2 separate regions of the Homo sapiens genome follow, and region 2 is linked to region 1. A link means that fine-mapping ties the variant in region 1 to the expression of a gene that starts in the linked region. Tissue or cell type: whole blood. Region 1 holds a variant in brackets; the other region holds the start of a gene. All regions are shown on one strand. Distances are from middle to middle. Region 1 has its middle 19 kb from the start of LINC02175. Region 2 holds the start of LCMT1-AS1 (LCMT1 antisense RNA 1).

Evidence for each region. PIP is the estimated chance that this variant, and not a neighbour inherited with it, causes the effect.
Region 2: it holds the start of LCMT1-AS1, and the variant in region 1 is fine-mapped to the expression of LCMT1-AS1 in whole blood (TOPMed, PIP above 0.99).

The regions. Positions count from the first base shown.
Region 1 is chr16:25,083,978-25,086,896 of GRCh38, forward strand. No RefSeq gene overlaps it. Among named protein-coding and RNA genes, the nearest start is that of LINC02175, 19 kb to the left of the region's middle. The variant G/A (reference allele first, on the strand shown) is at 1,749.
Region 2 is chr16:25,109,909-25,112,827 of GRCh38, forward strand. It overlaps LCMT1-AS1 (LCMT1 antisense RNA 1), which reads right to left and starts at 1,647. Exons shown (of 3, transcript NR_120306.1): 1 at 1,488-1,647. LCMT1 (leucine carboxyl methyltransferase 1) reads left to right here and starts at 1,834. Exons shown (of 11, transcript NM_016309.3): 1 at 1,834-2,088. The coding sequence starts at 1,976. RefSeq lists enhancers at 1,257-1,784, 1,562-1,891, 1,982-2,141.

The DNA of each region.
Region 1 (2,919 bases):
TCTGTTACAGCAGCACAAAACAAAGTGAGACAGAGGGTGTAGGGCAGGAAATTTCCTCACCCAATTCAGTGAAACTGTAAATTGGTAAAAAAAGGACTTGAAAAGCCTGGCAGTGGCTATTCATAATGTGCAAACTCTGCACTAGCGATTCCTGCAAACATGCACATATACTTGTATTTGCTATAACACTGTTTAATATAAAAACATAGGCTGGGCACAGTGGCTCACACCTGTAATCCCGGCACTTTGGGAAGCTGAGGTGGGCAGACTGCTTGAGCTCAGTTCAAGACCAGCCTGGGCAACTTAAGCCCAGGAGTCTGAGGCTGCAGTGAGCTGTGATCGAGTCTCTGTACTCCAGCCTGGGCAACAGAGTGAGACCCTGTTTCAAAAGAAAACAAAACAAAACAAAAAATAAAAAGGCAAAAATCTAAGTGATTATCAGTAGGGAACAGATTAAATGGAGGGGAATTTCCCCTCTATTAAGATTAAATAGATTAAATAGAGGGGAATTTCCACAAAGGAGTACAATAAAGCAATTATAAATAACGATGCAGATCTGTATATGCTGACATGAAAAGAGCAAGTTACAAAACATGTATGTTATTCACTATTAAAATTACATAAATGTTTATATTTATAAACAAGTGGTAGAGACTCATTCATTCAACAGAAATATACTGAACTACAGGATATAGCTGTTCAGTGTGTATGTACATTTGTTCAACAGAAATATGTTGAACCAAAAAAAAAAGAAAAGAAAGAGGAGGAGATGAGTCCATGTACTCCTCAGTTTACTCATGAGCTCATTTACTGCACAAATGCAGACACTCACTACAAAAATGGCAAATATATATTTGCTACTGTTCAAAGCAAGAGCCCCTCTAAAAAGGCCTTCACTAGCTACTGGGAAGGCTACATTTGAGGCTACAATGAGCTATTAACCTGCCACTGCACTCCAGCTTGCGTAACGGGAGACCTTATTTACAAAAAAAAAAAAAAAAAAAGAAGTAAATAAACAAGACTTTAATTACATTCGGCCCTAAGCACATACAGTAAAAATTCAGTGGATGCAGGTCTCAGGTGAGGTCAGCGAAGCATTATGCTCAGCATTTGATGTCCAAATCACAAACGGATCATGAAATACTTACATGTAGAAATAACTAAGACTTGGCTGGGCGCAGTGTCTCATGCCTGTAATCCCAGCACTTTGGGAGGCCAAGGGTGGGTGGATCACGAGGTCAGGAGTTCAAGACCAGCCTGAACAATATGGTGAAACCCTGTCTCTACTAAAAAGTACAAAAATTAGCCGGGCTTGGTGGCACACGCCTGTAATCCCAGCTACTTGGGAGGCTGAGACAGGAGAATCGATTGAACCTGGGAGGCAGAGGTTGCAGTGAGCTGAGATTGCGCCATTGCACTCCAGCCTGGGCAAAAAGCGCAAAACTCCGTCTCAAAAAAATAAATAAAAAGCATATTTAATATAAAATATAGCTTTATATTGGGAAAGGCTGAAAAACTTAATTTCATAAGACAAACTAGAAAAAATAAAGCTTGACGAATATTTCCCATTTGTAAGTATTAGTCTTCTCTACAGGACAAGCTGAAACACATATTAATTTTTTAAAAGAATTAAGATTTTATTTACATGATTGATTAAAAGGGGTATGGGAATGTAGTTAAAACTAGTAAGAAGCCTTGAACTTGGGCTTAAAGTCACAGTTTAAATCTCAGCTCCACTCTTTCCTAGC[G/A]AGGTGACCTTGGGCACATTATCTTCTTTGAGCCTCAGTTTCCTCATCTGCAAAAACGTGATAATAACAGCACTTAATTCACGAGTCCGCTGTGAGGACTGAATGAAACAACCCAAGCAAACCACTTAACATGCTACTAGGCACGAACACTCAGCACACATTAGCAAACTTGTCATCTGCAACTTTGCAAACTCCTTGAATACCGGACTCGGAATGGCCCCATAATATCTCATCTATAATAACTAACTTCAGTCTTCCATTCATTCACACATACAAAAACCATTTACTGCACATCTAGTCTGGGCCAGGTAACCTTCTCTATGCCCTGGGGATCAAGAAAGACACATAAAGATTCAGATTATGAAATTATGAGAGGTCATTTTTTAAATGTTCAGGCAAATTACATTAATTGCTAGAAGAGTCGTAAGGAAAAGGATATCGCATTCTGAAGACTGCACGACATGCTGGAGTGAGGATCCCAGGCCAAGAAAGCAAGTGGGGAGGGGGTCAAAGGAAAGCAGTTCCCTAAAGTGAAATCTGCCATCTACCGAGAGCTGGGTGTGAATTCTACCTGGTTCTTTTTCTTCTGGCTAAACCACACTTACTTAATACTGTGTAGCTTTCTCATGACGATCATTTGAAAGTTGACCTCAACTTATTTATTTACTTATTTAATTATTGACACGGAGTATCACTCTGTCACCCAGGCTGGAGTGCAGTGGTATGATCATGGCTCACTGCAACCTCCACTTCCCAGGTTCAAGTGATTTTCCTGCCTCAACCTCCTGAGTAGCTGTGATTACAGGTGCATGCCACCATGCCGGGCCAATTTTTGTATTTTTAGTAGAGACAGGGTTTCATCATGTTGGCCAGGGTGGTCTCGAACTCCTGGCCTCAAGTGATCTGCCCGCCTTGGCCTCCCAAAGTGCTGGGATTACAGGTGTGGGCCACGGTGCCCAGTCAAACTCAACATATTTACTTGGGAGACGATCTTCATCCTGGGGAAAAACACAGAGTATCTGTAATTATTTCTCCAGTCATATGTTATGATCATATTCCACGAACCAAGCACTAGACACCTAAGAGCAATCAGGTGTGTAAGAATTTAAAATTGGAGCAAATATGGCCATAAATGTGTTTTTCAAATGACTCTGGTCTCAGCATGAAGAAT
Region 2 (2,919 bases), 26 kb after region 1:
TTGCTGTTAACACTTACTATCCACTAACACCCGTGGAATGTGGACACTGCTAAGCTGGGAGATGATGCTTGTGCAATAGTTTGTATTACCCTTTTGGCAAAGGACCACTCCAAGAAAATGGTGTATTTCATCCCATCAGCATTCCCCCTGGCAAAGCTCTCCACCCTTAGTCATTCCCCTCTTGTCATTTCTACTGTGGCTATCAATGAGATCTTGTGCCTCCATTAGAATACTGAGCTAGCATTTGATATTTGACCTCACTCCAAGGTGTGTATTCTGGGTTTCTGTTGTTGATTTTCTTTTTAAAAAAATGAGTGCAATTCAAAGTTCTTAAAGTATATCTGTTTCCTGCTTCCAACAACTGACAGATAACAAAATGGAATATACAAAGACATTTTTAATTTATAATGTATATTAAACATTATTATACATATACAACTTACAAGGGTTGCTTCTGGCTGGATTCTCTGCCAATCGCCCGAACACTGAGGATTCTGCTAGTTGTTCTGCCCTGAGTTAATTATAGCTATAAAATTTCATCACCAGCAAGAAACCAGGCGACTTCCCCAGTACATCTTGAATTTATACATATATTTTGTACTAGATTTAGTACAAAATAAATCCAAAACATCTTGAATATGCCTCATAATGAAACAGACACACGTGAACCCACTCCCACGTGAGAAACTGAGGATGTGTCTATGTGCTCCTTCCCTGCCTCTCCCTCCCCCTCTTGTGTGCTACCCTCCCGGCTCCCTAAAGATCACCAATATCCTGATTCTTTTTTATTTTTTTTTCTCATGTCTTGCCTTCTCTGTACAGTATTTTACCATATATGTACGTTTCTCTAAACAACATTAGTTTTACTTGGTTTGAACTTTACAAAAGTGTTGTTAGACTTCCTTCTTTCACTGAACATCGTGTTTCTGAGATTCAGCCATTGATGCTGCTACCTGGTAGCTCTAGTTCATTTATGATCGCTGCTACATGGCTTCCTATTGTATTACTTTTCCACACACTACTTCCCTCACTACATTTCTTTTCTTTCTTTCTTTTATTTATTTGTTTATTTATTTTTTTGAGACGGAGTCTCGCTCTGTCGCTCAGGACGGAATGCAGTGGCGCCACATGGGCTTACTGCAACCTCCGCCTCCCGGGTTCAAGCGATTCTCCTGCCTCAGCCTCCTGAGTAGCCAGGACTAAGGCGGCCGCCACCACGCCCGGCTAATTTTTGTACTTTTAGTAACAACGGTGTTTCACCATGTTGGCCAGGCTGGTCTCGAACTCCTGACCTCAGGTGATCGGCCCGCCTCGGCTTCCCACAGTGGTGGGATTACAGGAGTGAGCCACTACGCCCGCCCCCCTCACTACATTTCGAAGGCAATTTTGGGGGCAAAGCCCTCAGCACAGTCGCTGGCAGAGTCAGCACACAACAAAATTTTGTAAAATTGAATGACACTGAGCCCGGACTGAATGTAACAACTTACACATGTTGCTTCTGGCTGGATTCTCTGCCCTTTGCCCGAACGCTGAGGATTCTGCTAGCTGTTCCGCCCTGAGTTAATTATAGCTATAAAATTTCGCGACCAGCAAGCAGAAACCGGGCGACTTCTCCAGACACCTAAGACTACGCTTCCCAGAAAGGATTGCGATACTCTCCTACTGTTTAGTTTCTTTTTCCTATCGTCAAATTTCCGGGTTATGTGGGCGGTGCCAAAATAATTATCCAATGAGCAACTTCGTAGGCTGAGCGGGCAGGAGAATTGCTCAATGAGCGACTCGGAAGAGGAGCCAATAAGCGGAGAGGTTGCTGGGGTAGCCGGCGTGGGCGGCGTCACTGAGCCGCGCCAGCTGAGCCAGGTAGGGCCCTACCCTCTTCTGTTGCTTTCTCCCTGTGGCTCGCGCCGTCCCCCGCCGCCCGTCGACCCCGCTTCCATGTCCCTGGCGGACACAGCTCCCAGGAACCTCCACGCCCATGGCCACTAGGCAGAGGGAATCCTCTATCACCTCCTGCTGTTCCACCTCGAGCTGCGACGCAGACGACGAGGGCGTGCGCGGCACCTGCGAAGATGCTTCCCTGTGCAAGAGGTGCCTGTCGGGCGCGGGGTTCGGGGCCGGCATCTGGGGCGCGGGCCTAGGTGGGAGGTGGGCCTGCATCTGAAGAATACGCTCAAGGCTGGCAGGGATGCAGCCCCCGCCTCGCACGACCCTCGCTTCCCACCTGTGAAGTGCACGGAGCAGGGCTTCATTTATTTAACGAATCGTTTCTGAGCTTTTGCTGTGAGCCAGGCAGGGGGCCAGCCTGGGTATCGTCGATGGGAGCAGGCCCCTGAGCCAGACAGACGAGGCCTTGGGCTTCTTGGAGCTAAACGCTGCTGGAAAGACAGACATGAAGCAAATAGTAGCTCCAGCCTCGATGGGTTACGAGGATGAGAGGTGTAGGTTCTCTCTCTTTTGTAGGTTGCATTCTTTAGGGGGTTGGTGTGATCCCTGTTGTGCACCTGAAACTCAGGATGACGAGGGGAAATAACCCACCCAGAGCCAAGTAATATCTCTTTGCAGAGCCAGTACCGCACTAAGTCTCCACTGTTAAGGGTGTGGTGGTGGGGATGGGGGCGTAGCCAGCAGAGGTACGTGTCAGAGAAAGAGAAAGCTTGAGGCTTGAATGTCCACCATTTATTCTTTCATTCAACAAAATTTTTTGAGACCTTACTTTGTGCCAGGCCTTTACTTTGCAGTGGTTAGTAGGAATTCGATGGTGGAAATACACCAAGAACAAGACAGACATGGTGTCAGACATACTGGAACTCACAGCTTTGTTGGAAAAGAGAGACAGGAAGCAAATAATTACCTATGAAATATATAATTATGATTTTTTTGTGTTGAGTGCTGACAAATACGGCAGTGCCATTAGAGTTT